5 separate regions of the Homo sapiens genome follow, and all the other regions are reported to be linked to region 4. Evidence: microRNA targets listed by miRTarBase, many of them from high-throughput screens and not tested one by one. Region 4 holds a microRNA gene; each other region holds the end of a gene's coding sequence.
Evidence for each region. The annotated mature microRNA hsa-miR-3190-5p reads UCUGGCCAGCUACGUCCCCA and lies in region 4 at 2,156-2,175, shown strand. An mRNA with a match to its seed (bases 2 to 7 or 8) in the 3' UTR can be bound and repressed. Matches are read on the target gene's strand: a 7mer-m8 pairs with bases 2 to 8, a 7mer-A1 pairs with bases 2 to 7 and ends in A, and an 8mer does both.

Region 1 (6,121 bases), not on the chromosome of region 4:
TAGATAATATAGTATTTGCTATCTTTTTCATGTATGAATGAACTAAAGTCAATTTTAAGTTCACTTTGAGAATGTCACTTAAAATTTAAATGAAGCAGATGTTACATTAATATTATATAACTATCAAACAGTACTTTATAGATTTTTGGCTCAATTAAAGGGGAGGACAAATACTCAAAAGTGCCAAGTCCTATCCTGTTTTGCCAATGACTTCTTTGTAACAGTGTGTTGCTTGCTTTAGAGTCTAATTGAAGTCATGCAAGCCATACAGCATTCATAGATTTACTACTGAGGCTTATAAATGAATTCTTAGAAATATTGCACTTATTTTCCAAACTGTACTGATACCTTGATATATAGTTAAAAATTAATATTCTGGTTATATGCATCTAAAGGAAGCATGAACTTAAAAATGTACTCATTAAAACAATAAGAAATCACTTTAATCAGAAAACATAAAATAAGAGAGGAATATGATCAAATATATTCAGTATCAGAAAAAAGTGTTCTTTATTAAGACAAGCAGAATCACACGAAAGGGAACATCACACACAGGGCCTGTTGTGGGGTGGGGGGAGGTGGGAGGGATAGCATTAGAAGATATACCTAATGTTAAATGATGAGTTAATGGGTGCAGCACACCAACATGGCACATGCGTACGTATGTAACAAACCTGCACGTTGTGCACATGTACCCTAAAACTTAAAGTATAATAATAAAAAAAAAAAAAGGCAAGCAGAATCAAACCCTAGGCAGTCATTTATTGGACATTTACTAAGAGTCAAAATGTCTAGTGGTATAAAGGAGATATGGAAAATAGTTACTAATGATATATAGGTGAAGTACTACTGAGTATGATGTTGCATCATTGCTCAGAACCAGTACCTTTCACTTGTTCTACTCCTTTACTTTTTCCTTAATAGGAAGTGTTAGGAGTTAAAAGACTCGAAGGATCCTACATATCATTGTGCCTTGTCTTCTTGCAGGAAATGGAGCAGTCAATGAATATGCTGAATTCCAACCATGAGTTGCCTGATGTTTCTGAGTTCATGACAAGACTCTTCTCTTCAAAATCATCTGGCAAATCTAGCAGCGGCAGCAGTAAAACAGGCAAAAGTGGGGCTGGCAAAAGGAGGTAGTCAGGCCGTCCAGAGCTGGCATTTGCACAAACACGGCAACACTGGGTGGCATCCAAGTCTTGGAAAACCGTGTGAAGCAACTACTATAAACTTGAGTCATCCCGACGTTGATCTCTTACAACTGTGTATGTTAACTTTTTAGCACATGTTTTGTACTTGGTACACGAGAAAACCCAGCTTTCATCTTTTGTCTGTATGAGGTCAATATTGATGTCACTGAATTAATTACAGTGTCCTATAGAAAATGCCATTAATAAATTATATGAACTACTATACATTATGTATATTAATTAAAACATCTTAATCCAGAAATCAAATCATCTTTCTTTTTTTTTACTTAATGTTTCTTTTTTTCTGACAATTTTCTTCAATTATCTGAGGCTTGAAATTTACCTTTCCTCTTTAAAAGGGAGTGGTTGTTATTTTTAGACAGCATGCACATTGTTTTTTATGTGGCCACACCTTTCAAAATTTTCAGCTCTCTGCCATTTAATTCTCTGATAATCTGAGCCATATGTTGCTGATGTAGTTTCAATTTTTTATTATTACAGTTAGTTTCAGAGTATGGATATATGAATCACAATAGATCTTATCAACTATTTTATTCTGGTTACCATCTATGGTATTCGTCTTACAATTATTGAGTACCAGCTTTGTGCTGTGATGCAAGGTAGAATACAGAGATGGATAATATACAAGTGCTTCTCCTTGATAGAACTTATTATGTCGGGAGGGAGGACAAATAATAACAGGGAATGAATGGCCAGGGGAAAGAAGTACAACAGTAGGAGAGCCTTCTAGATCCTGAGGATGGGGAATCAACCTTAGACCTCCATATTGTAACAGAGATATATAACACAGGTAGCTTTTCAGTCCCCTCATCTTTCTCATCATAGATTCTCAGAGGTGTTAGAAGATAAATTACTACTTTCTTTTTTTTTTGAGAGAAGTCTCGCTCTTGTACCCCAGGTTTGAGTGCAATGGCTTTATCTCGACTCACTGCAAACTCCGCCTCCCGGGTTCAAACAATTCTCCTGCCTCTGCCTCCCAAGTAGCTGGGATTAAGGCACTGGCCACCACAGCCAGCTAATTTTTGTATTTTTTAGCAGAGACGGGGTTTCACCATGTTGGCCAGGCTGGTCTCGAACTCCTGACCTCAGATGATCTGCCCGCCTCAGCCTCCCAAAGTGCTGGGATTACAGGCGTGAGCCACCACGCCTGGTCTCTTTTTTTTTTTGAAACAGAGTTTCACCTTTGTTGCCCAAGCTGGAGTGCAAGGGCACGATCTCGGCTCACTGCAACCTCTGCCTCCTGGGTTCAAGCGATTCTTCTGCCTCAGCCTCCCAAGTAGCTGGGATTACAGGCATGTGCCACCATGCCCAGCTAATTTTTGTATTTTTAGTAGAGATGGGGTTTCACCACGTTGGCCAGGCTGGTCTCCAACTCCTGACCTCAGTTGATCTGCCTGCCTCGGTTTCCCAAAGTGCTGGGATTACAGCTGTGAGCCACTGTGCCTGGCCAAATAACTACTTTCCAATCGGGAGTATCTCAAAAGTTTTTTATTTCAATAAGTTACAACATTTTCACACCTTTTCCTTTTGGGTTATTTTAATTAAAGAACTCTCAGGCCACAGTACTGCTTCTAGTAGAGGGTTCCTATTCTTTCCCATATTAAATAACTCCTGTATTGCTTTCTTAAAGTTATTAAATCAGTGAAAAAAACAGAGTAGCTTCCAAACTCAATTTTCTCTTTTGTATTAGGTGCTATTGTTCATTTAAAAATGAGGTACGTGTTTTCTCTTAAAGAAATACGTTCTGGGCCGGGCGCTGTGGCTCACGCCTGTAATCCCAGTACTTTGGGAGGCTGAGGTGGGAGGATCACCTGAGGTCAGGAGTTTGAGACCAGCCTTACCAACATGGTGAAACCCTGTCTCTCCTAAAAATACAAAAAATTAGCCAGGCTTGGTGGCAGGCGCCTGTAATCCCAGCTGCTGGGGAGGCTGAGGCAGGAGAATTGCTTGAACCTGGGGGAGGTGGAGGTTGCAGTCAGCCATCATGCCACTGCACTCCAGCCTGGGTGACAAGAGTGAGACTCTGTCTCAAAAAAAAAAAAAAAAAAGTTCTGATGCAGAACATTTTATTAACTGTTTCTATTTATATTACATACACTGTTACCAAACTGGTTAAGCTATGAATGATTAGATGGGTCAACAGGTTAATGATAGAAGTAGGTCTTTTAAAATCGAGTCATTTATGAAAATAAAGTGTTAGAACACTAGCTAAATGTCGTTCATTCAACTAGTATTCTAATTTTCACTTAAAATTAGTGTTTTAGGCCGGGCACGGTGGCTCACGCCTGTAATCCCAGTACTTTGGGAGGCCCAGGCAGGCAGATCATGAGGTCAAGAGATCAAGACCATCCTAGCCAAGACGGTGAAATCCCGTCTCTACTAAAAATACAAAAATTAGTTGGGCATGGTGGCATGCGCCTGTAGTCCCAGCTACTTGGGAGGCGGAGGCAGGAGAATTGCTTGAACCCGGGAGGTGGAGGTTGCAGTGAGCCAAGGTCACGCCACTGAACTCCAGCGTAATGACAGAGTGAGACTCTGTCTCAAAAAAAAAAATTAGTGTTCTAATTTTCACTTAAACATTAAGTTAAAAAAATGACATTCTCCTTTGTAATTCAAAGGAGACATAGTAAGAGTCATATGACCAGAAACCATGTTTTAAAATTTCATAATTTACCTTGTGACATGTGTTTATCTGTGTAACAAACCTTCACATGTACCCCCAAACTTAAAAAATAAATAAAAATTTTATAATTTAGATTGTCAACATTTGCACAACACCTAATGACTGAGAAATTAGGAAGCACTTCCAAGGAAATTACTGTTTCATATGCTACATAAGAAACTGGTTATTTTACATGGATTCTAACAGCATCTGAATATAATCTATACCCCTTATATATTATGTATACCCCTTATCATATTACCTCTAAATATAATATATACCCCTTATGAAATGTATCAGTTGTGTATGAAAATCTTATATTTTCATAGAACCATCATCAAATGCTTAAGGTGCTTATAGGCACAGAAATGACTATATATTATTGGACAATATGGGGTTTAGTGCAAAGAGCCCCTGGTTAGCTGCTAACTTGCTTTGTGACTTTGAGCAAGTCACTGTCCTGGACCATGTCTTGTCTTGGTCTTTGTACTATCTCTAGCATCTAGCATGTAGGCACACCAATAAAAGTTTGTTGAATGAATAATAAATGGACCTTAAGTTTCCTCATCTATAAATGGAAGGATTTGGATTAGACCTGTAAATTTCTTTTTGAAATTTCAAATTTGAAATCTCAAATTCTGTTATACTTTTAGCCCAGTCCTAGTATTTCCTACCCTTAAGAACCATATGATCAGTGCTGGCTTTCTTATTTTACTTCCTTGGATTCTTTCTGCTATTTCCCATTTGGAACAAAGTATTGTTTTGCTCTTCTTTAGAGCCTTTGTTAGATTTGGTTTATATGTATCTCCTTTTATTTATTTTTAAAATTTTATTATATATATATATATATATTATTTCTTTTTCTTTGAGAGGGAGTTTCCCTCTGTCACCCAGGCTGGAGTGCAGTGGCACCATCTTGGTTCACTGCAGCCTCTGCCTCTCAGGTTCAAGCGATTCTTCTGCCTCAGCCTCCCGAGTAGCTGGGATAACAGGCGAGTGCCACCACCCCTGGCTAATTTTGTGTATTTTTAGTAGAGATCGGGTTTCACCATGTTGGCCAGGCTGGCTCCAAACTCCTGACCTCAAGTGATCCGCCTGCCTTGGCCTCCCAAAGTGCTGGGATTACAGGCATGAGCCGGTCACTATGTATCTTCTTTTAAATGTAAGTTTTGTGTTTTATAATTTTTCACATCTACTGAATTAAATCTGAACAGTGACTTTGTGCAAAATAAATTTTGCTGTCCATTCTTGCCAAAAAGTCCTGAATGTCCAGGATGATTTCTCCAGGACATCTCTATTGCTCCCAAGTTTCAAACAGTTTTTTGGGAGCCAAAACCTCAGGATTTACCCTAGATCTGGTTAACATTTTGAAAAGATACAGGATTTTACCTAAACTGCCCTGAGTAGAAAACCATCTTGTCATTTTTCCCTTATGCCTTCCCTGACAGGAGGGCAGATACTATCACACAGCATACTTCTCAGTAGTTGGAAGGGTTTGAAGGTCCTGATAAGCAGTGTCCATAAAGATAAGGGAGAGCTTTTCATTTAACTAGTCACTCAGACTTTCAGGAAGTTTTGAGTGTTTTTTGTTTCTTTTTTTTTGAGACAGTCTCACTCTGTTGCCCAGGCTGGAGTACAATGGCGCGATCTCAGCTCACTGCAACCTCCACCTCCCGGGTTCATGCCGTTCTCCTGCCTCAGCCTCCCAAGTAGCTGGGACTACAGGTGCCCGCCACTATGCCTGGCTAATTGTTTGTATTTTTAGTAGAGATGGGGTTTCACTGTGTTAGCTAGGACGGTCTCGATCTCCTGACCTCGTGATCCATCCACTTCAGCCTCCCAAAGTGCTGGGATTACAGGTGTGAGCCACCACACCTGGCTTGTTTCTTTTTTTTTTAAGTGCTCAACTAGAGTATCTTTTGTTTAAAAACTGTTACTGAAAATATTTTTATTAAATATTTTAAACCACTATTTTCATTTTTGCTTATTGCCTTTCGGGTCACATATAGACATACATTTGCATGGTTACAATCATGTATGTACATTTTGTATTTAAACCCAGCAAAAATTCTGCTAAGCACCAATTTCAGGTAACCCAACAGAAGCTAGTGACTGAGTCTTTTAATTCAGCTCAAAGAGTATGTTGAGATGGGACCAGTTGTACTGAGCTCTTCCGCATTTTAGGTGTGATTATTTTCATTATTTAGAGTCTTAAATTTATAAGGCTGGTGAGAATATCCATTTGGTT
Region 2 (5,950 bases), not on the chromosome of region 4:
CAGTTTCCTCATTAGTTGAGTGGCTGCAATAGCATAAGATACCAAGCATACACTTGGCCCACACAACATGCTCAAAAATGTCAGGCTGGGTTGGTGTGAGGCTGCAAGAAGTTGTCACTTGTCTAAAGTCACAGAGCCATGCCTGGGTTCATCTGTCCTCTACAGAGAAGCCCCTAAGGACTAAAAGGAAGAAGCCCCTGCCCCAGGAAAGAGGGGACCTGGGGGTGCCCAACAATGAGGACCTTGCCTCCGGGGACCAGACCTCAGGCTCACTCAGGTATGACTGGGCCCCGGACCTGTTGCCTGTGGCTGGGTTTGGTAAATGCACTCAGCTGCTGTGTGCCAAAAGTCAGGGCAGGAAAATCATCAGTCCCCTCAGAGGCATTAAATGTGAAGGTTCAAGAAATGACAGATATGAACGTAATTTGTGGGCAGTAAGCCATGATGATACCAGGGGTGCCACATGGCTGTTACCCTTCCTGTTTGTGTCTCATTTGGCCAGATGAGCCTTGACCTACCTCCACACCCCATTGGCATCCAGCCTGAAGTGTTGGGCAGTCCCTTCTTTGACCAGGGATGGCTGTGGTCATGGCACTTGGATGACCTCCTACCCAAGGAGGGAAACGGGTTTTATTGGTTTCTTAACAACCCATGTCAAAGTAAAAATTGTTTTGATCACCTTTGGCTGCATTTTCATTTAATCCGATTGGGTAAGTTATGGCATCATGATGGGCATGGAGTCAGCGTTCTAACTGGCTGCCTTTCTTCTCTGTTTTAAGCAGCAAAAGGCTGAGTCAGCAAGAAAGTGAAGCTGGGGACAGTGGGAACTCAAAGAAGATGCTAAAGAGAAGAAGCAACTTGTAGTTTAAGACCAGTCGGTGGGACAAGACCTGAAGCCCTGGGTCTGGGTGTGAATTCCACCTTCCCTCCTGCAGTGCTGAGAGGCAGCGAGGACGGAGAGGACAGCGGCATCTCTAGGCTCTTCTGAGAGGGACAGAGAAAGAATAGAAATGTGCCCTAAAAGCATAAATGAGTATCACCTGAGAAAATTAGGCATTCCCGTCTTGGAAACACGTCTCTGTGAGTTTGCATTTCATTTGGCTTGGAGCCCTGGCTCGATGCCTCATGGATCTTTCTCCCCAAGGAGGGACGTCTTGAGGGGTCCGAGCCTCAGGCCAAGGACCCCTGATGCAGACTCTGGAATCCCTGGCCCAAAGGCCTGTCTGGGCCCATCTGGGGCTGAGGACACACAGATACATAATGACACCTGCAGAAATGTATTCTCTGAGGACACTTAGAATATGAGGAAGAGGGTGTGGCCCAACCCTCACTTCACCTGGGGAGGGGCTTCTTCCGGACAGTAGACACCCTGCCCGTGCAGAGAGATGTCATGGGGGCACCTGCTCTCCCTGATAGATGCTGAGAGCATCCAGAAACTTCCAGACCAGCCCTCTCACCACACCCAGAAGAGGCCTTTCCCATCTGGAGAGAAGCTTCCAGACCAGCCCTTCACACACCACAGCCAGGAGGGGCCTTTCCCACCTGGAGAGAAACTTCCAGACCAGCCCCTCATACCACAGCCAAGAGGGGCCTTTCTCACCTGGAGAGAAATTTCCAGACCATCCCCTCTCACCACAGCCAGGAGAGGCCTTTCCCACCGGTAGAGAAACTTCCAGACCAGCCCCTCACACCACAGCCAAGAGAAGCCTTTCCAGCCTGGAGAGAAACTTCCAGACCAGCCCTCTCACTACAGCCAGGAGAGGCCTTTCCCGCCTGGAAACTTCCGGACAAGCCTCTCACACACCACAGCCAGGAGAGGCCTTTCCCACCTGGACAGAAACTTCCAGACCAGCCCCTCTCACCACAGCCAGGAGAGGCCTTTACCACCTGGAGAGAAGCTTCCAGACCAGCCCCTCACACCACAGCCAGGAGAGGCCTTTCCCACCTGGAGAGAAACTTCCAGACCAGCCCCTCATACCACAGCCAAGAGGGGCCTTTCTCACCTGGAGAGAAACTTCCAGACCAGCCCCTCACACCACCGCCAGGAGAGGCCTTTCCCACCGGGAGAGAAACTTCCAGACCAGCCCCTCACACCACAGCCAGGAGAGGCCTTTCCCACCGGGAGAGAAACTTCCAGACCAGCCCTCTCACTACAGCCAGAAGAGGCCTTTCCCACCGGGAGAGGAACTTCCAGACCAGCCCCTCACACCACAGCCAGGAGAGGCCTTTCCCGCCTGGAGAGAAGCTTCAGGCCAGCTCCTCACACCACAGCCAGGAGAGACCTTTTCTGCCTGGAGAGAAACTTTCAGACCAGCCCCACACACCACAGCCAGGAGAGGCCGTTCCTGCCTGGAGAGAAGCTTCCAGACCAGCCCTTCACACCACAGCCAGGAGAGGCCTTTCCCACCTGGAGAGAAACTTCCAGACCAGCCCCTCTCACCACAGCCAGGAGAGGCCGTTCCCACCTGGAGGGAAAATTGCTCCTTTGATGGAGGTTAGGGACTGTCACCCTCAGCACTGTGAACATACCGGGCGAGATCATTCTTCAGGGGAAGGAGCTGCCCAGAGCATCACAGGATGTTCCAGTGTCCCTGGTCTCTGCCCACCAGATGCCAGCACTCCCACCATTCGTGGCAACCAAGGATGTCTCCAGACACTGCCCCGTGTCCATGGGGTTATCACCCACTGTGCTGAGTCAAAGGGTGCCTTGCCCTGGTCTAATCCAGGACATAGCCGTGGATACGTCCAAAAATCCCCAGAACCTAGTGAGCCCTCTGGCTCTGGGAGCCCCTATCTCAGGAATTTTCAGGGTCATTTGTGACTTTTCATTTCTTAAAACCTGAAATAGACTCTCTTAGAAACAAGTGACTCCTTCCCAGTGGCCAAAACTTAATCATCAGAGCGCTTCCTTCAGTTCCTCACCCATCAGCCAGTGGGCTCTCCAAAGTTAACCAACAGCTCCCTCTTGTGGTTCACTAAAAAACTTGGTTATTCCATGGAGTTGTGCAAAGCTATGGCTTCCTTGGTGCAATATTCTTAAAACCTGCTTTGCATAGAAATCACTTTTGCCCAGGCTGGAGTGCAGTGGCGTGATCTCGGCTCATGGCAATCTCCATCTCCCGGGTTCAAGCGATTTTCCTGCCTCAGCCTCCCCAGTAGCTGGGACTACAGACGTGTGCCACCACGCCTGGCTAAATCTTTTTTGTATTTTATTTTAGTAGAGACGGGGTTTCACCATACTGGCCAGGCTGCTCTCGAACTCCTGACCTCATCGTCCACCTGCCTCGGCCTCCCCAAAGTGCTGAGATTAGGCGTTAGCCACCGCGCCCGGCCAGAAATCACTTTTATATTGTCACATGGGCCCTCTGCACAGAGTCCGATGGCTCCTCCCGGGGAAGCCTGATTTTGTGACGTGTGTATAGTAAATGCAGGCCCTCTGGCAGCACCATAATTGGTCGGTTACCCTGAGCCCAGAGCTCTGAAAGCATCTGTGGAATGATCACGGGACCCTTCTCCTCTGAGAAGGCTCCCGGCTGCCTCCCCGCCACCGAGCTTGTAGCCTGAATGCCTGGCTGTCGCATGGAGCATTTTGCTTCTGGGGTGTCTTCCTTAGCCAAAGGGAACGTGTCATTTGCTCGACCCTGGCCCACCCTTGCCGCCCAGCTGTTGTGCTGGGCACAGTCTGGGGCACAGGCCTCCATGATGAAGACGCGTGGGCTGTCGGTGCTTTCATCCGTCACAAACTGGCACCTGTACCTGCCAGCAGGAGCATGATGGGGACTTCCATGCTGGAATTGCTCCCTGATTAAAATGAGATATGGCTATTTGGAAGACACTGCATTTTAGCCAGTGTACCTGGGCACAGACTCGGGGCTGCCCTGAAGCTGATGAAGGCTTGAAGGACGGAAGGGCTGAGCCACATGAAGGCAGCACTCAGGGCCAGGGGAGAGAGAAGAGGATCAGCAGTGCAGCCCCAGGATGCCTCGCAGGTACCCTGCCTCCATTTTGGTTACCATCCCCACTTATTATGGGCTGTGGGCTGTTATGGTGATGGATGGATGTGGATTTGGAAGGGGACCATGAGAGATGATGTATTATGATGAACTCATGATTTAATTCTTTGGTGAAAATAGCACCCTCTGACCTGTACTTGAGACCGCAGGATGAAGCCAGCACGGTTTTTTGTACTCCCCCAGGGTGAGTGCACTCTCCCAGGACCCTCCTGGCCAACCAGGGGTCACGTTCTGCACCACATTCCTTCTGAGGCCCTGGCCAGGGCGGTGCTGATCTTGCTGTTGCCACAGAAGCCTCTCCTGCCCCTGCCATCCGCCCATCACATGTTCTCCAACGCAAATCTGCCTGGCCTTATGGGCGGCGTTCCCTGGCTCTTAGGAGAAAAAGCCAGATCTTTACCATGGACCATGAGGCTCAGAGAGGTCTAGGCTGAGCCCACCCCTGCGGCCTAGCAGATGCCCTTCCCCTTCACTCTGCACCTGGTCCCTGTCTTCTCTCATGGCCTCACATGGGCCACACCCCTGCCCCCCACTGGGCCTTTGCTCATGATGTGCATTCTTTCTGGAAGACCCCTGCCCCCCTCCCCAGCCCTCTGCCCAGTGGCTCCTAGCCACTCCTCACATGGAGTCAGGACTCACATCTCCAGAGATCCCCCTCTGCCCCCAACCCTGAACAACATCAGGGCCCCCCTTAGATTCTAGGTCCTGTGTTCTTTGCTGCTGGGACTGGGGTGAGGTCGGTGGGGGAGCATATAAATAACCTTCCTTTATTTCTTGTCCAAGTTCATCACTATACACAGAGGTGTACAGTGAGACCCACATAAACAATCCCACTAAACCCAACTCAACTGGCCCTTACCCAGATCCTCCAAATGTCCCAGGCCTCCCTAGTGTCACCTGATATGCAGTGGCATCAGCAGGAAAGGGAACAGTGGTCTTAAGGATTGCAGCTAAAAGATCTGACTGTGGCATTGTAAACTGTAAGGAATGTGTCAGTGAACCCGTGGCTAAGCCCACTCCCGGGTCTCGGTGGGGTCTGTGCACAGGTGGCAGAAGTGTGAGCTCCATGAGCTTTACAGTGAATCAGCTGTGGGGCACAGAGGGCAAGCTTTTCCTCCACCCTACGAAGGCTCCTTGAGAAACAATTGACCAAAGGCAGACCAATAGGAAAAAGAAAAGCATTCCAACGTAACGTGCATGGCATGGGGAATTGCAGGAGAGTGATGACCCCACAAACCAGTGAGGTCCAGGTGCTTCCACACCCTCATAGGGAGACGGGAAATGGGGGAAATGTGGCCGTTTAGAGGGTAAAGCGTGATTTATAGGGGGAACGAATCGATCCAGAGGCAGGCACTGTCTTGGGAGTGATCCTTCCCAGACTGGCCAATCAGGTATTTCTCCTCCTCCCCAGAGAAGAATAAAAGAGAGAGGGAGAGGGGCCAGGGAAGTCCCTTGTGCTGTCCCCCAGAGAGTGGAAGCCCCTCCCTCTATGGAAACCAGAGGAGTGGGAGATGGGATTATTCTCCCCTAAATGTTTCCTCTATAGCCCTTAACAGAGTGTGCAGTTCGGTGCTTTGAGTAATCATTTGATTCGCACCTGACGTCCCCCCTGGAATGTACACCATTGACCGGCCACATGCCACCTGGCATATAACAGGCATTCATGGTCACCTGGTGGAAGGAAGGGAGGGAGGCCTGGGAATATTCCTTTCCTCCTGTGGCAACTGGTTTGGAAGGAAGGGAGGGAGGAACGCTGAGTATATACTTTCCTCCTGTGGTGTATGGATTGGAAAGGAAGGAGGGAGGGAGGGAGGCCAGGAATACTATTTTCCCCCCATGGCTTATAGATTTGGCTGTGTGTCAGCATTACCCAGGGGCTCATTAAAAACAACATTCTTAGCCCCATCCCAGAGATTCTGAGTCAGCAGATTGGACAG
Region 3 (6,110 bases), not on the chromosome of region 4:
GAGCAGTCAGTGGTTTTCAACTCTGATTGTATGTTAACATCACTTGAGGAGCTTCCAAAAAAAGCAAAAAGAAGTCAGAGCCTTATCCCCCTACCTTTTATGGATTCTGGTTTAATTGGTTCTGTGATAAGACCAGGCCTGGGGCATGTTTTTAAGTGCTCTAAGTTATTCTAAACTACACACATTTGAGAACCACAGAGCTAGAGAACTCACCCCTGTTTCTTTAAATATATTCCCACCAGATGGCAGCAGTGATCTTCCATTAATACATTAATAGTAAACCTTGGTTGTTTGAAATGTTCATTTTAGTTGTTTTCTGATATTTCTGCAAGTATAAACTGATTTCTGTTCATGTCTTTCAGAATAACCTGAAGCCCCCACAAGCAAAAAGGAAGATACAACATGTTACTTGGCCCTGAAGAAAAGTTTCCAAAAATGTAAATATACTGTAACTGTAGTTTTTCAAATATGTTCATATATATTGACAATATTTACAGAAATCCTGATTATTGTGGAATTTTCTTAAGAGGTTTCAAATAGGTTTAAAAAAATAAAGGATTTATTTTCCTTCCCTTCTTCCCTCCCTCCCTTCCTTTTTTAAAATTCTTGCCTGTCTTGCCCTGATTAGGAAAGAATATCTTTTTAAACCAATGGCTTAGTATATGTCATTTATATTGACCCTACTGAAATTATTAGCTACAAATGTGCTATAAAGCATCCATTGAATTGGCCAGGCGCAGTGGCTCACGCCTATAATCCCAGCACTTTGAGAGACTGAGGTGGGCAGATCACCTGAGGTCAGGAGTTTGAGACCAGCCTGACCAACATGGAGAAACCCCGTCTCTACTAAAAAATACAAAATTAGCTGGGCATAGTGGTGCATGCCTGTAATCCCAGCTATTCAGGAGGCTGAGACAGGAGAATCGCTTGAACCTGAGAGGCGGAGGTTGCGGGGAGCCAAGATCGCACCATTGCACTCCAGCCTGGGCAACAAGAGCGAAACTCCATCTCAAAAAAAAAAAAGCATTCAGTGAATTTTCGGAGTTACTCTCATTAGCCTTGTTCAGAGTCTTTGGGGGAAATTTGAGATTTTTGAGATTTTTTTTAAAAACTCAAATATTTTACTAGTTTGCCTGCCATTTTATTTCTTTTACAAAGCAGAAGCATATACCAATTTATCACAGTATTTTAGTAAATACTGCAACATTCATCCTTAAATGTTCACCAAGAAAAGCATCTTTGTAGTAGTGCTGGAAAACTATTCAGAATATACAGATAAAAATGCTGTTCTTTAATTGCTTACATTGCTTCTTCCCATAAAAAGCAAAAAGGAATCAGTGCTTGCTATTGCTCCTTTCCTTGAAGTTGTAACAATTGATACATATATTATGAGTTGACTGGTCGATTCTGTACCTGGCCCATCCTTTAGAATGTTCTTGTCATGTAGCAGTCCTACGTACTCTTTTCATGAGCAGTCTGTGATCTCACTCTGTGAGTTCAGCTATTACTCGCTCGTGGGAGCTTAATCTTTTCAAAATGAAGTTGATTTAAAAAGTCTTCAGGCAGAGTAATCATGTTAGAGGTGGTATTCGATGGAAGAAAGTTTAGAGAGTTAGGAGTGGGGGTAGAATTCTAGAATTTATAAGAGTCCAGGAAGCATAGCAGTCAGGGGCAAAAATTAGCGTAATATGGAGTAGGCAATAGAGGAGCTACTGGAGTCAGAAGTCACTGCAGAGTGCAACATAGGAAGATGGACTCCTAGCTTACATGAGATTCCCTGCAGCTGTAATATAGACAATTCCCACATGGCTGTTCTACACAGAATTACCTGCTAAGATTTTTTGTTTATTTTTGTTTGAGTGGTATTTTCACTCCAATTGTATAATGGAAATCAGTGGGAAAATAGGGTTTACCTTATATTCATGAGTTCTAGTTTCTACTGTTCTGCTATGTGTTTCTAAGCAAGAGCAAAGGATACTTCATACTTTTTTCGTTATATGATTGATCTTCAAATTGGGATTTACCTTTTTCAATATGTTTTAAAGTAGTCTTATTCCTCTTTTGATTTGTTAAACAAGCATTTTAGTTCAGCTATTGAATAGCCTTCCAAAAAATTAATTCAGCCTTGCAGGTAAGTACCATACTAAGACTTTAACCCAATAGTTTTTAATCATTCTGCCTTTATTCCAAACTGTAAATCTGTACACATAAGATAAAACATACTAAGTATTGCATAAATTGTTAACGTTACAGTAAATTGTTATCTGCAGGGCTGACAGACATAATGTTGGTGGGCAACTGTGATCCTATACATACATATATGCAAAAGGGGATTTTAAAAGTGCAGATTATAGAGTAGATTGACAAATTTTATTTTATATTCAGTTGTCCTCTCTGCTTCCATCTGTGTTGCTCTCTTAGTTGAGAGAGAGTTAGCCATTTGACGATTTTAAGTCAGTGGGAACTTATTTTTAGTTACTCAATAAAATTAATATTTTATTTGTATTTTAACTTACAGAGTAGGTTGGTAATAACAGCTGAACTGTGTAACATTGTTGCTTCAAATTGAAGTTTATATTATGAACATTCAGAATCAATGCTCATGTAGCAGCATATTATTGAGCTATTTTGAGTTTGAAATGTGGAGAAACGCTAAACCATGTACTATGTGTTAACATAATCCCACCTTCTTAGAGCTTTGTTCCTTCTGAAGGTGTATAGATACAGCTTGTCTTGAAATGTCTTTCTCCACATAATGAAGCATGCTGAATGCTGGGAATCTGGAGCAGCAGCCCTGGGAGCCCTGAGTTTTGAAGTGTTTTGGTTTGCTTCAAAGGTTAGAAGAACTTGATATGTATGGCAAACAACTTTAGAATACTAGTTACTCACTAACATGAGGCGGGTAATGTTGCTCTAGATTCTATATTCCAGTAAAGCCAGCTTTTCTTATTATTGGAGTAGGCAAATGAATGGCATTAGAATTAGTGGGTGGCTTGTAAGTTGTAGTTATAGGCACTTTACCACTTCCTGCCATTAGCAGGCATCCTTGTTTTTTCTTTTCCCTCTTTGTTCCTTCTTTTCCCTTTCTCCTTATACATTTTCTTTCTCTACTTTAATTCTCCTTCCTCCTTACTGTAGATCCCAAGCTTCTAGCTTAGGTTTGCAAGTCATATTGCTTGGCCCTCCACATTCACTGAGAGGTGAAGATAGGCTGACCCCCTGTCCTCTTACATTTGAGGGATCATAGACTGCTGTGTGAATTCTGGAAAGTCTCAGGTCCCTACCAGGGCACTGAATGGCTTCTCAATGGCTGTAGAGACAGTACAGTTTTCCAAAGCAGCCTAATTCATCTGGACAGCTACCAGGCACTTTGGAAAGTTGGTTCAGTTACTACTATGAGGCCATAATATATTTGCTGGTATTAAAATTCTTCAGAATTGGAATTACTATTTGAAATAATATTTTGGTTGACTTAAGTTTTGAGAGACAATTCTAAAATTGATCTAGAGACTCATTCAATAGCAATGTGACCTTTTAAATACTTACATTAAGTAAAACTGCCAGTAGATTAAATCATATATATATATATATATATATATATATATGTAAGAGCTTCCTCTATTTACTACTGTTGAACTTCAGTAATTTTTAGAGGCTAAATAATGGTCAGAATGTTTTTAAGTGTGCTCTTTTATTACATGCTTGTGCAGGTTTTGTAATTCAGTACAGAAAAGTTTAACCTTGTACATTTTTGTATGTAAAAAGTCTTTTAAGTAGTCTTATCCTTATTTAAATAAACAGAATAAAATTACCTTGAGTAGGTCTGTTATTCTTATTAAAATGGAAAAATGCTCTGTAATGACTTGATCTGTTTTTATTTGAGTGAACAATTTTGGAAAGTATTCTTTATAGTACAACTTTCTATACCTGGATTGATTAAGATCAGATGTGATTCGAGTAGTCCAGCCATATCTTGTAGCCCTTCTTTGAATGAGAGGGTGGCTGGAGTGGTCTGGTGCTGGGATATCACGGTGCTACAGAGCCTGACATGTTGACTGTCACTACATGTTGAGGGATGGAAATAGAAGTCTCTGAACTTCCCATGTAATATTAAAGCTCTTAACAAAATGAGACAAACTAGAGATTCAGTTGAGAGATTTTATGTTAGAGTGATCTGAAAAAAAGTTAATTTCTAAACTGCTATCTTAATATTATTATATTTGGAGACTGATGCTGTAAATTAAATAACTTGGAAAAGACTCAGGTAACTTTCTACTTTGTCTTTTGTTTTGTTTTAGAGATGAGGTCTTGCTCTGTCGCCCAGAGTGTAGTGCAGTGGCATGATCATAGCTCACTGCAGCCTTGAACTCCTTGGCTCAAGTGGTCCTCCTGCTTCAGCCTCCTGTAGCTGGGACTACAGGCATGCACCAGCACACCCAGCTTCTACTTTGTACTTAACACATAGATTCTTCATTTTTTTTGTCTGGACAGAAGAGACAAAAATCTTATTTCCACTTAGATTGTTTTTACTAAAGTGCATTTTACTAACTAAAGTGCATTGCTTTTTCAGTTGTTTAGTAGCTTGATCATCTTATTGTGGAATAAAAAATAGAGATTAGAATTGCCTGTGTATTTGTTGAGTACCTACTATGCTAGCTCTTTCTTGGGAATGAACAAGGCAGATTAAGTACTTGCTTTCATAGAGAAAACAGACAGTGAACCATGAAATAATGGGTAATTGTAATGGTAGAAAGTAAAACAGGGTCAAGAAATGGTGAAGGATGAAGAAAGTAGGATGAGAAGCTATTTTAAATACAGTGGTTAGGAAAGGCCTCTGAAGATACTATATTTTGAAGAGAGCATGCCTAAGGCATAGCTATGGAGAGCTTTCAGGAGAAGCATTCTACATGTGTCCAGTTTTAGATGGCTGCATACTCCTCCCATCAAGGCTGGAGTCAGCTTCCCACCACTTGTATGTGGACCTGGCCTTGTAACTTGCTTTGATCAAGTGAATGCTTCTACTCTTACACTTGGACTTCTGCTTGCAGCCATGTGAAAAAGCCCAGGCATACCCACTGGAAATACATGGCTCACCCAACAGCCAGCACTAACTGCCAGATGTGACCACTAGTCACCTATCCCCCCCGGTCTAGCTGCCGGCTGACTAAAGTTGTATGATGAGCTTCCTGGTGGGATCAGTCCAAATTGATGACTCTCAGAATCATGAGTGAATAAAATGGGAGTTGTATAAAGCCACTAAGTGTCGGGGGTAGTTTGCTACCCAGCAGTAGTTAACAGGTCCCAGACAAGGACAAAACATGAAAGCCCTAAGGCTTACTAGGTTCTTAGAACAGAAAGACTGGTGTGGCTCCAGTGAATGAAAACGGGCAGTGGTAGTATAAAATGAAGTCAAAGAAGGTAGGCAGGAGCCAGATGATGTATGAATGTAGGACTTTGGATTTGATTCTAATACCAATTGGAAGCTGTTTGTTAACTCTGTTGAGACTTAACCAAGCATTCAGTTTAATCAAAAATAGACTAGTTGAGTAAGTCTGTAATAGCCCTGTCTTTTATCCTCAAGTAAAATTAGCCAAGTGTTGTTTTCTTTTTTAATCTTCAGGTAAATAGTTTAAACTAAAACTTACTTCTTTGACTAACAAACATTTAGGAGACTGTAAAATGCTTTACCAGTTATGGTGAAAGACAAATGCTTTTCATAAATATAAAACCATCCTATCTTTCGAAGCCTTCTGTTTTGTCTGTTCTGCCTTGCTATATAAGTTTTTAAAATAAACTTTTAAAAAATAAACTAGGACAGTTAGATTTCTGGAGAAATTGCCACAGTAGTACAGATTTTTAACATACCCCACACTGTTTCCCTACTAACATACATTCATATGGTACCTTTGTTGAAATGACTCATTGTTAACTAAAGTTCTTAATTTTTTTCGATTTTCTGAGTTTTTCCCTAATACCCTTTTACTGTTCCAGGATCCTACCCAGGGTACCATGTTATTTAGTTGTCATGTCATGTTAGGCTTCTCTTGGATGTGACAGTTTCTCAGAGTTTCCTTGTTTTTGATGACAGTTTTGAAGAGTAATGGTCAGGT
Region 4 (5,000 bases):
CTGATCTCGGCTCACTGCAACCTCCACCTCCTGGGTTCAAGAGATTCTCCTGCCTCAGTCTCCCAAGTAGCTGGGATTACTGGCGTGTGCCACCATGCTCAGCTACTTTTTGTTTCTTTTTTTTTTTTTGAGACAGATTTTCGCTGTTGTTGCCCAGGCTGGAGTGCAATGGCACGATCTCGGCTCACCGCAACCTCTGCCTCCCGGTTTCAAGCAATTATCCTGCCTCAGCCTCCCGAGTAGCTGAGATTACAGGCATGTGCCACCACGCCTGGCTAATTTTGTATTTTTAGTAGAGACGGGGTTTGTTCATGTTGGTCAGGCTTGTCTCGAACTCCCGACCTCAGGTGATCCGCCCTCCTCAGCCTCCCAAAGTGCTGGGATTACAGGCATGAGCCACCACGCCCGGCCTTAATTTTTGTATTTTTAGTAGAGACGAGGTTTCACCATGTTGGCCAGACTGGTCTCAAACTCCCAACCTCAAGTGAGCCACTTGCCTCCGCCTCCCAAAGGGCTGGGATTACAGGCGTGGGCCACTGCACCAGGCCGAAAATGGCTGTATTTGTTGTTTCTTTTTTGAGATGGTCTTGCTCTGTCCCCCAGGCTGGAGTTCAGTGACCCTTCATGGCTCAGTGCAGCCTCGACTTCCTTGGCTCAAGGGACCCTTTCACCTCAGCCTCCCAAGTAGCTGAGACTACAGGCCCGCGCCACCACACCCGGCTAATTTTTGTATTTTTTGTAGCAACGGGGATCTCATTATGTGGCCCAGGCTGGTCTGGAACTCCTGGGCTCAAGCGTCCTTCTATCTCCGCCTCCCAAAGTGCTGGGATTACAGGAGTGAGCCACCGTGCCTGGCTGAACATAGATGAATGGAAGCTCTTTTGCCCATATGGTGAATCTGAAGCCTAATATTGAGGGAAAAAGGAATTCTGGGGAGAAACAAAAACTATGTCATATACGCTAAGCTAAGAATGCTCCATGATTCTAAGCCCTGGTTCTGGCCTGGTAAATACGGAGTAAAAGCAACACCTGCAGGGGTTGAGAGAGGCCAACTCGAGAGATTTCCTTTGGATGCAAGGAGGGGGAAGGGATGGGGAGAGTAAGGAGCTTCACCACATGCGTTTCTGCGGTTTTGTTTGGTTTCTTAATAAGCAAGCAATGCGGGTGTAATGTTCAAACTGAACAGAGCTGCCTGGTGGGCGCATGATGTTTGTGATTTCCCATTCTCTGCTGTGGGCTTCGAATATTTGTTTTAAAAAATCGAGGCCGTGCCAGGGGCTGGGGGGCGGGGCCTCCCGCGGGGCGGGGCTGCGAGCCCACCCCTGCGGTCCCCGGCCCGCCCCGGCGCCCGGGAAACTGTGTGGCGCTGCGGGCCGCGCGAGAGGGACGGCAGGGGGCGGGCGCGGCGCGGCTGCTGACTCACCGGCTATAAATAGCCCGGGATATATGAGCCGCGCCGCCCAGCGCCGCCCTCAGTCCCCGCGGCCGCGGGCCACGGGCGCGCAGCTCCACTCCTCGGCGGCCTAGTCCCTGGCCCTGGCCCTGGCCCTGGCTCGGGCTCCGGCTATGCCAGCCGCGGCGCGGAGTCCTTGGGCGGCTCTGCGGGCGCGCGATTCCCCCCCACCCACTTACCCCCCACCTGCCTGTCCGCGGAGCGACCCAGCCGCGCAGGGCAGCAGCTGCCGCACATCTGGCGGGGGCCGCCTGCCGCCCCCTCCTCCGGCGGAAGTCCCACCTGCCGTCTACCCCACCCCCAGCACTCACCCGCCGCTCGTACTGTGCGTTGAGGTCGTCCGCCATCCGCCGCAGCTGGGCCCCGATCTCCCGGGCCCACTGTTCCTCCTCCCCGCGGACTCCCGGGGCCGCCTGGGTGGGACCGCCCGCCAGAGCCCCCGGGGCGCTGGGCACGGGCGACTCCAGGTGCTGCTCCGCCAGCGAGAGCGAGGGCTGAGGACCTTGGAGAGGCAGAGGGGCGCGGTCAGCACCCACCACCCCTCCAGGCCTCGAGGTGTCTCGGCCTGCTCCCCTCTTTCCCAGCCACTGCTCCCCGCCTCATTTCTAGTGATCCCATCGCTAGTGAGTCAATTTCTCAGCTTCTCCTCCACAGGCACCAGAAAGCAAGAAGTACCTGGGGACGCCGCTCTGGGGTCACCTGTCTGGCCAGCTACGTCCCCACGGCCCTTGTCAGTGTGGAAGGTAGACGGCCAGAGAGGTGACCCCGGGGGTGGTCAGGCTTAACGACCTCTATTTTCCAAAGGGGCCACATTTTGCCTTTTCCATGTGACAGGCAGGGAAACTGAGGCCCGCCCTTAGGGAGTATCCCAAGGTCACACAGGGATACAGTGACTGACCCCACCCAGATCACAAGCCTCAGGTCTCCTGCCCTCTCGTGTCCAACCACAGGGAAGCCACACCTCCGGATGTGGCAGAGGCCTAGAGACCAGAAGGCCAGAGACTGTGGCAGCTTCAGAGCGCGGGCCTGGGGGGCTGGGACGCGGGAGATGCCTTCCTGCCCCCCCCCCCCCCCCACTTCTGAGCGCCCTAGGAGGCTCCTGCCCTCCCGTCCCACCAGGTCCTGGCCTGAGGGTTCCCTAAGGCCTACAGCCAGGGCCTCAGTTTCCACATCTGTGACCTTGGCCTTGAAATCGGTGTCCCCTTCCAGGGCTTCCAGGAACTGAGTTAGGGAAGTTTTCTCTTTCCTCGCTCCCCTTGGGCTGCCGGGACAAGATGGGGGATGGGAAACCAGGACACACTTTCCCTAGAGCGCCTGCCGGCAGGGATGGGGCTCCACGGGCACCACAGGGTTAACAGCCCATCAGGCAGGGGACCTTTAACCCTTCCCTCCCCAAGACTCCCCCACCTCCCCGAGGGGACTTCCCAACACAATGGCCCCTCCCCCTCTCCTTCCTCCGCCGGGACTGCTGAGGACAGCCCCTGGCCAAAGAGATGCAAATAAAAGCAAAAGGCCTCTCGACCCCTCCCCAGAGGCCAGAGTTGACAGTCCTCCCGCTCGGCCCACTCTCCCTGCAACAGGAATCCTCCAGGGGGTCTAGAGGACCCAGACTGGGGGAGGGGAGCTGGGATGCAGCTGTTGCCCCAGGCCCGGAAGAGACAGTGGGCTGCAATTCGGGGACTGCAGTCAGATTCCAGGAGGGACTTCCCACTTGACCTCCCCCTCCACCCCCAGCCTCCGTCTTCCTGCTTCTTGCAACACAAAGACCACATTGGCCACACCCTCCCAGTGGCCCGGCTGGGCCCGCCACCTCCCCCCGTCCTCTCCCACTTCTCCAGTTCCTCCGAGTCTCCAGCCCTCTCTCTTCCCGGCTCCTATCACCCCGGGGGCGGGGCGGGCACTCACCGTCCGGGCGCGGGCCTCGGGGCCGGCTGCGGGGACCCCCAGGCCAGCGGGAACCCCCCAGGGCGGCGGTGACGGCGGGTGGGGCGGTGGGGGCGCAGAGGTAGGCAGCGGGCAGCAGGGTGGGGGCGGCGGGGGCGGCAGCCAGGCCGGGCTCGCAGAGGCCGCAGGACACTGCCGAGGGCACCAGGCGGCCGAGCGGGAAGGGGCGCGGGCCGTCGCGGGCCAGGCCCTCTACGGGCTCCGGGGAGCTGCCCTCCTGGCGTGCGCGGGCCATGGCGCTCCCTGGGGCCTGCGGGACACGGGAGGAGGAGCAGGTCAGCAGGGAAGTACCAGGGCCCACTGTACCTCCAGCCTACCCGGGGTTAGGACCCAGATGGAGAAGAGTGGAGGTGTGTGTGCATGCGGAGGGGGTGACGGCCCCACAGAGACACGCCCAGCCGGGGGATGACACCACCGGGTCCTGGCTGGCCTGGAGAGCCTCCCGTGCATACGGTGATGGGCACACAGGAGGGACAGGGGGCACAGGACGGCTCTCACAGCAAGGACAGGGCTCACACAGGACGGATGGAGGGGTCTAGCAGGTGTGTGTATGAGGGCTGTGACAGTCCCACAACACAAACTCACTCCACTTGGGACTCACAGCATGGGCTGGTGGGGACAACTTTCCCAACACAGCGACGGGCACACAGGGAGGGCAGTGAGGCACAGCGAGGCCCCCACAGCACACACACAAGGACTCACACGGGACTGGCCAGCCTGACCGCCCACCCCACCTCCCACTTGCACACAAACACTGAGATGGCCCCAGTCTCGGACATCACTACTCAGTACACACAATACACACACACCCCCGACCAAAGCAGGAGCATCCAGACAGACCATCACAAGCACTCTACATACTGCGCACACTGGCTGGCACAATCCATCCCCACACATCCAAACTGTCAAAGTCTCACACACTGACCCACTGTTGATATGCCCAGGGGCACATGCAAACACAATGCAGCCTTTGCAAACACAAACACACACACACAAGCTAGGCACTGCCTCAGTTCCCAAACATGCCCCTCTCCACACACACACACTCACTCCAGAGATAAGACCTGCACACCTCTGGACTCACATATCAACACAAAACAGACACCCACGGACACACATACATCAACACCCCCAAAACACACCCACATGTCACCAACTCTCAGGACACACGTAGATCAGGCACACACAGACACATGCCATCAGACCTCAACACACCACCAGACACCAACCCACCCTCCTCACGCAACCCTCAAACATCATCACCAACTGTCAGCAACACACACACACACACACCCTACAGCTAACTCTAATCCCACACAGCCCAGCAGCACACACACCTAGCGCACCCACAGAAAACACTGGTCTCACGTGACTGACATAAACACTACACACACGCAGCCCACATGACACACATGAGCCAGCCGATCACAGTGACAAGCCCCTCAGACCCAACACACACACACACACACAGGCTCAGACACAACCCCATCCAGAGGCTGCCAGCAACACCCACCGTCTACACTGCATAGACCCCACAGATCCTGGGTCCTCAAATCCCAGACGCTGATGCCAGACACACAAGCCAAACCCAGACTGAAACAAC
Region 5 (6,121 bases), not on the chromosome of region 4:
GCAGTGGCGCGATCTCGGCTCACTGCAACCTCTGCCTGCTGGGTTCAAGTGATTCTCATGCCTCAGCCTCCCGAGTAGCTGGGATTACAGGCACGCGCCACCACACCCAGCTAATTTTTGCATTTTTAGTAGAGATGGGGTTTCACCATGTTGGACAGGATGGTCTTGATATCCTGACCTCATGATCTGCCCACCTTGGCCTCCCAAAGTGCTGGGATTACAGGTGTGAGCCATCGAGCCCAGCCATTTTTTTTTTTTTTTTTTTTTTACACGGAGTCTCGCTCTGTCACCCAGGCTGGAGTGCAGTGGCGCGATCTCAGCTCACTGCAACCTCCGCCTCCCGGGTTCAAGTGATTCTCCTACCTTAGCCTCCCGAGTAGCTGGGACTACAGGCACGTGCCACCACGCCCGGCTAATTTTTTTGTATTTTTAGTAGAGACAGGGTTTCACCGTGTTAGCCAGGATGGTCTCGATCTCCTGACCTCGTGATCCGCCTGCCTTGGCCTCCTAAAGTGCTGGGATTACAGGTGTGAGCCACTGCACCTGGCCCAGAGAGGCTCTTGATGGTAAAGTAGTTGACAAACACACAGGTTCAAAGTCAGACAAAGGGCAGGGAACAGTTAATCGAAGCCTCGATTTGAGGCAAGACCAGAGTGGAATTGATAGTGGAATGATTGACAGAGCTTCAGATCTGATGTGAAACCAGTGATGCTGAACAAGTTAACCGAGGCCCAAATGTGACTGATAACACTATTTTTATTCTTTCTTCATTATTTATTCCCCCTTAGGTGGTGAGTCAAGAAAAGTGCCACCAAGATGAGTTTAAAGTAGAATGTCAAATCTGCCACCTCAAAATTTCACAAGGAGGAAACCCCCAAAATCATGCACAACAATATTCACAATCAATCATCTTGAATCCAGACTCAATAGACAATGTGAAGAGTGTAAACAAAAGAAGAAAGTGTTAGCGAAAAAGGAGGTTCCTCAAAATTATCCTGCCATCCACAGACCTTGGTAGAAACTGGGCATCTGTGTGGTGTTGCACACTGTGCAGAAAAACAGTAACAGAGCAGGCCTCAACTGCGATCCTTGGAAAGGCCTGCTTCAAGGTTGGCCCTTGGGTGGTGTCTAAGAACATAGACTCCAGGAGGGTTCCCACCATTCCCTAAGAGATAAGAATGGCTCACTCGGGCCGGGTGTGGTGGCTCACACCTGTAACGCCAGCACTTTGGTAGGCCAAGGTGAGAGGATCACTTGAGCCCAGGAGTTCAAGGCCAGCCTGGGCAACATGGCAAAACCCATCTCTGCAAAAATCAGCTGGGGTCATGGTGGTGCATGTCTGTGGTCCCAGCTACTTTGGAGGATGAGGCAGCAGGACCGCTTGAGCCTGGGAGGTTGAGGCTGCAGCGAACCATGTTTGAGCCACTGCACTCCAGCCTGGGCAACAAAGTGAGACCCTGTCTCAAAAAAAAAAAAAAAGAAAGAAAGAAAAAAAAGAATGGCTTACTCTACCTAAGCTGTTTGTATAAAAAAGTGGGCCAGGAGCGGTGGCTCATGCCTGTAATCCCAGCACTTTGGGAGGTCGAGGCAGGCGGATCACAAGGTCAAGAGATGGAGACCAGCCTGGCCAATATGGTGAAACCCCGTCTCTACTAAAAATACAAAAATTAGCTGGGCGTGGTGGTGGCAGGCGCCTGTAGTCCCAGCTATTCAGGAAGCTGAGGCAGGAGAATTGCTTGAACCCAGGAGGCGGAGGTTACAGTAAGCCGAGATCACGCCACTGCACTCCAGCCTGGCGACAAAGCGAGACTCCGTCTCAATTAAAAAAAAAAAAAAAAAGGTGGTTTATGCTGAGCCCCTGCTTTCCTTTTGGGAGCCTGGGATTTGGGTAGGTGCCAGGCAGGGGGTGCCTATGTGACCATGCCCCAATAAAAACTTGATACCAGCCAGGTGCTCACGCCTGTAATCCCAGCAGTTTGGGAGGCTGAGGTGGGAGGATCACTTGAGGTCAGGAGTTCAAGATCAGCCTGGCCAACATGGTGAAACCCCATCCCTACTAAAAATACAAAAATTAGCCGAGCTTGCTGGTGCGCGCCTGTAGTTCCAGCTATTCGGGAAGCTGAGGCCCGAGGATCGCTTGAACCCAGGAGGTGGAGGCTGCAGTGAGCCAAGATCATGCCACTGCATTCCAGCCTGGGCGTCAGAGCAAGACCCCCCCCCCCCCGCCAAAAAAAAACCAAAACAACAACAACAACAAAAAAAACCTCTGGGTGCTGAGTCTCTAATTGAGCTTCCTTGGTCAGCAACATTTCGCATGTATTGTCACAACCCATTACTGTGAACCGAGCACATCTTGTGTGACTCCAATGAGAGAGAAGCCCTGGAAACTTGTGCCTGGGTCTCTCTGGGAGTTGGTCCTGCACACCATTTCTTTTTGCTGATTTTGCTCCATATCTTTTTGTTGTAATAAGTCAATCGTAGCCATGAATACAACCACATACTGAGTCTTGGGAGTCCTCCTAGCAAATCACTGGGCTTGGGGCTGGTATTGAGGACCATGACACACACACACATACATGACCTTTACCATGGGAACAATCCAGCTCACTGATGTCCCTATCTCACCACCATGTACCCTGAGGTCTATTAGATGGAAGTGCCAGTTAGAAATGCTTGGGGTGCAAGTAACCACACTGTCAAATAACTGGACTGAACAAACGGGAGATTATTTCCCTCCAACAAGACTGTTGGTGCGAGTTCAGCAGCTCAGCAATGCTGGGCCAAGCTGGAGTCTCTACCACGCTGTGGACTGACCCTAAGGTCCCAAGATGTCAGTCGCAGTTCCAGTCAACGCATATGTGGCAACAAATGGAGCTGAGAAGGAAGGGAGGGGCCGGAGCAAGAGCCTCTTTGCTGCTTCAGGTAACTTTGACATTTTCTGGTGACGCAGGCCACTGATAAGTGATTTTGGTTATTTACCCCCATCAATACTCAAAGCTTTTTCTCCTCTCTTGGGGCTCCCCTCAAATACTTAACATCACTTTTTGGTCTCTGAGCTGTTCCAGGGCTGGAATTTGTACCCTGGATGGGGCTGGGAGGAGACAGGGGTGGTCTGAGGGATGGAGATTCCGCCACACAGCAGGAGGCCCCAGGTCAGCCTTAACTTCCCGTTGCTCCTGCACCAGCTTGGGGCTCCAGGACTCAACACCTCTGCTCCCTGCTTTTAATAAACAACACAATGCACAGAAGGGTTGGGAATATCGCCCCCTGAGGAGGCAGCAGAGTCCTGCAGCCTAACATAGTGAACCCCCTGGGGGTCCGACCCAACATTCCCCCGCCAACTCCTCCACTGTCACTACCCTGGTGCAAGTCCCCATCACTGCGCTCAGAGGGGTCTCCTGCTGGGTCCCCTGCTTCTACCCCCACCCCCAATCTGTCCCCTTCAGCAGCCAGAGGGAGCCTCTATGACCAAGTCAGATCATGTTCCTCCTCTGCTTGACACCTTCTGGTCACCCCCACTCAGAAAAAAAGCCAAAGTCCTAACTGTGGCCCATGAAGCATCTGGCCTGTCTGACCTCATGTACTGTCACACTCTGGTCCAGCAAGACTCTGGCATACACAATGATCCTTCTGGAGCGCTCCAGCCTCAGTGCCTTTAGGCTGGCTTTCTCTCTGCCTGGAATGTTCTCCCCCTACACTATGACTCCCACTCACTTCATTCAGGTCTTTAAATGTCACCCTGAGCCAGGCGTGGTGGTTCATGCCTGTAATCCCAGCACTTTGGGAGGCTGAGGCGAGTGGATCGCTTGAGCCCAGGAGTTCAAGACCAGCCTGAGCAACATGGCGAGACCCCGTCTCTACTAAAAATACAAAAATTACCCGAGTGTGGTGGCACACACCTGTAGTCCCAGCTACTTGGGAGGCTTAAGTGAGGATCACTTGAGCCCTGGAGGTTGAGGCTGCAGTGAGCTATGGTCATGCCACTGCATTCCAACCTGGGTGACAGAGTGAGACCCTGTCTCAAAAACAAAAAAGTCACCCTGTCAGGATCATCTTCCCTGATGCTGTCACCATAAAGAGCCCACTCCCCCAACTTCTGCAGCTCTGTCTCCCATCCTTGCTTTATTTTCTTCATACCACTCATCATTAGCTGGCCTGTTCCATGTTTTTATCTACTGTCTCCGCTATGATGCAAGCCCAATGAAGGCAGGCATTTCCATCAGTTTAGGTCAGAGCAGTATCCCCAGTGCCTAGAACAGTTCCTGGCACACGGTCAGGGCTCACTAATGTCTATCGAATGCATAAGTGTGTAAAACAGTTAAGGCAGGGCCTGTAACCCAGCAGACATTCAATCAATGCTTGTGGAATGAATGAATCCGTCGATGCATGAATGCACAAATGAGTCAATGAACCCCGTTCCACCGTGTTCCTGGAGCTGCCCGCTGCCCTCTGCCCTGTCCGTCCCCGGCAGAGCTGGGAGCCGGCCCTCAGCATGACCACCGAAACTTTATTTACAACACGAGGCTGGAGTAAGAGGGGTGGGATGGAGGACAGCAGCAGGGCCGACAGGACCCTACTTCTGCTCCCGCCTCCAGACGATGACCATGCCGCTGGCGTCACTGGAGGCCAGTAGGCTCTCGTCGCAGTTGAAGCTGACATCAAGCACAGGTGCACTGTGGCCCTGCAGCTTGTTGACAGCAGCCTTGGCCGCCCGCTCCACATCAAAGAAGTGCACGCACATGTCCTCACTGCCCGTCACTGTCGGGGTGAGAGGGAGAGGCCATCGGGAGGCGCCTGGGGTGCCCCTGGTGGGAAGTCCCTGAGGTGTCTGAGGTGTTGAAGGGTGTATGTCCGAGGTGTGAGGTCCTAGCATGGCTTGGGGAGGTTTGAGGGGGCCCCATCCCTAGATGGGAGGTCACCTGGCTGTTTTGGTACTGTGTGCAGAATGCGAGGTCTCTGGGCTGTTTGGGGAGTTAGTGCGTTCAAAGTGTGAGTTTTCATCACTTCTCGGCCTTTTGGCCGAGATCAAGTGCAAACTGTGAGTTCTCTGAGCTGTTTGGAGCTGTGAGTTCCACAGTGAGGCTGTTGGGGCAGGAGGGGTCATGAGGTCCAGGAAGTCAGGGCATCGGTGTCGTGATGTCTGAGCCAGGTTGGCACCAGCCCTGGTTCCTGCCCCTCCCCAGCCACCCAGATCCCCTGTCCCTACAGGACTCACCCACGCAGGCCCCCTGGCGGAAGGACATGAGGGGACAGAAGATGCTGCGCACAGGATGTGAGCTCTGCTCGATGGGGAAGCTTCTCTTCAGCTGCAGGGTCCCCTCGTTGTCTACCACCCTGAGAGGATGAGAGAGTGGGTCAAAACACAGCCCCAGCCCTAGCAGGGAGACAAGTTGTGGGCCTGTGTCCCCACCCCTGTGCCTAAGTTCTTTACAGGGTTCATGAAACCCATATTTTTTTTTTTGTTTTTGAGACAGGATCTCACTCTGTCACCCAGGCTGGAGTGTAGTGGTGCGATCACGGCTCACTGCAGCCTCAACCTCCTAGGCTCAAGTGATCCTCCCGCCTCAGTCTCCCGAGTAGCCGGGACTACCTATAGGCACACACCACACCCAGCTTATGAAACCCAATTCTGAGATGACTACATAAACTATAAGTAGGGGCTGATGTGTGAGTTACTGATGGTTCAGAAACTGTCTCTGTTGATATAAATGGGAGCCTCTGCAGTTTCATTCACTAGTTTTTCTTTGTAAGGGTCTCTAAAAGATCCTGGTATTAAGATAAGCACAAAGAGAGGAAATGAACACACCATGGTATGCCCACACTGTGGAAAACTGCACAGCCCTTAGAGAGAATAAAACACTGTCCCCACAGGTAACCTGGGGGGGTTTCCACAAGGCATTGCCTGGTGAGAAACTCGAAATGTAGGAAAGGCCATTTCTTTTTTCTTTCTTTTTTTAAGAGATGGAGTCTGGCTCTGTCACCCAGGCTGGAGTGCAATGGCACGATCTCGCCTCGCTGCAACCTCCGCCTCCCAAGTTCAAGCAATTCTCCAGCCTCAGCCTCCCAAGTAGCTGGGATTATAGGCGCCTGCCACCATGCCCAGCTAATTTTTGTATTTTTA

Region 1: the mRNA of EMC7 is a reported target of hsa-miR-3190-5p. The part of its 3' UTR that is shown has no 7-base or 8-base seed match.
Region 2: miRTarBase lists EVC as a target of hsa-miR-3190-5p. Seed matches in the 3' UTR shown: 7mer-m8 at 3,241-3,247 and 7mer-A1 at 3,330-3,336.
Region 3: the mRNA of C2orf49 is a reported target of hsa-miR-3190-5p. Seed matches in the 3' UTR shown: 7mer-m8 at 728-734.
Region 5: miRTarBase lists WDR13 as a target of hsa-miR-3190-5p. Seed matches in the 3' UTR shown: 7mer-A1 at 3,561-3,567, 7mer-m8 at 2,028-2,034 and 7mer-m8 at 1,624-1,630.

The regions. Positions count from the first base shown.
Region 1 is chr15:34,079,353-34,085,473 of GRCh38, reverse strand. EMC7 (ER membrane protein complex subunit 7) reads left to right here. Exons shown (of 5, transcript NM_020154.3): 5 at 988-1,457. The coding sequence ends at 1,140. Among named protein-coding and RNA genes, the nearest start is that of EMC7, 19 kb to the left of the region's middle.
Region 2 is chr4:5,810,174-5,816,123 of GRCh38, forward strand. It overlaps EVC (EvC ciliary complex subunit 1), which reads left to right. Exons shown (of 21, transcript NM_153717.3): 20 at 166-277; 21 at 780-4,132. The coding sequence ends at 864. Among named protein-coding and RNA genes, the nearest start is that of CRMP1, 80 kb to the right of the region's middle. RefSeq lists an enhancer at 2,809-2,858.
Region 3 is chr2:105,344,953-105,351,062 of GRCh38, forward strand. It overlaps C2orf49 (chromosome 2 open reading frame 49), which reads left to right. Exons shown (of 4, transcript NM_024093.3): 4 at 363-4,259. The coding sequence ends at 419. Among named protein-coding and RNA genes, the nearest start is that of C2orf49, 10 kb to the left of the region's middle.
Region 4 is chr19:47,224,800-47,229,799 of GRCh38, forward strand. MIR3190 (microRNA 3190) reads left to right here and starts at 2,143; the gene lies at 2,143-2,222. BBC3 (BCL2 binding component 3) reads right to left here. Exons shown (of 4, transcript NM_014417.5): 2 at 3,359-3,647; 3 at 1,765-1,955. The coding sequence starts at 3,632. It overlaps MIR3191 (microRNA 3191), which reads right to left and starts at 2,220; the gene lies at 2,145-2,220. RefSeq lists enhancers at 575-1,074, 2,283-3,225 and silencers at 1,148-1,707, 1,202-1,368, 1,738-2,037, 3,258-3,697.
Region 5 is chrX:48,603,485-48,609,605 of GRCh38, reverse strand. WDR13 (WD repeat domain 13) reads right to left here. Exons shown (of 10, transcript NM_001347217.2): 9 at 5,216-5,334; 10 at 737-4,758. The coding sequence ends at 4,574. Among named protein-coding and RNA genes, the nearest start is that of WDR13, 9.1 kb to the right of the region's middle. RefSeq lists a silencer at 3,171-3,465.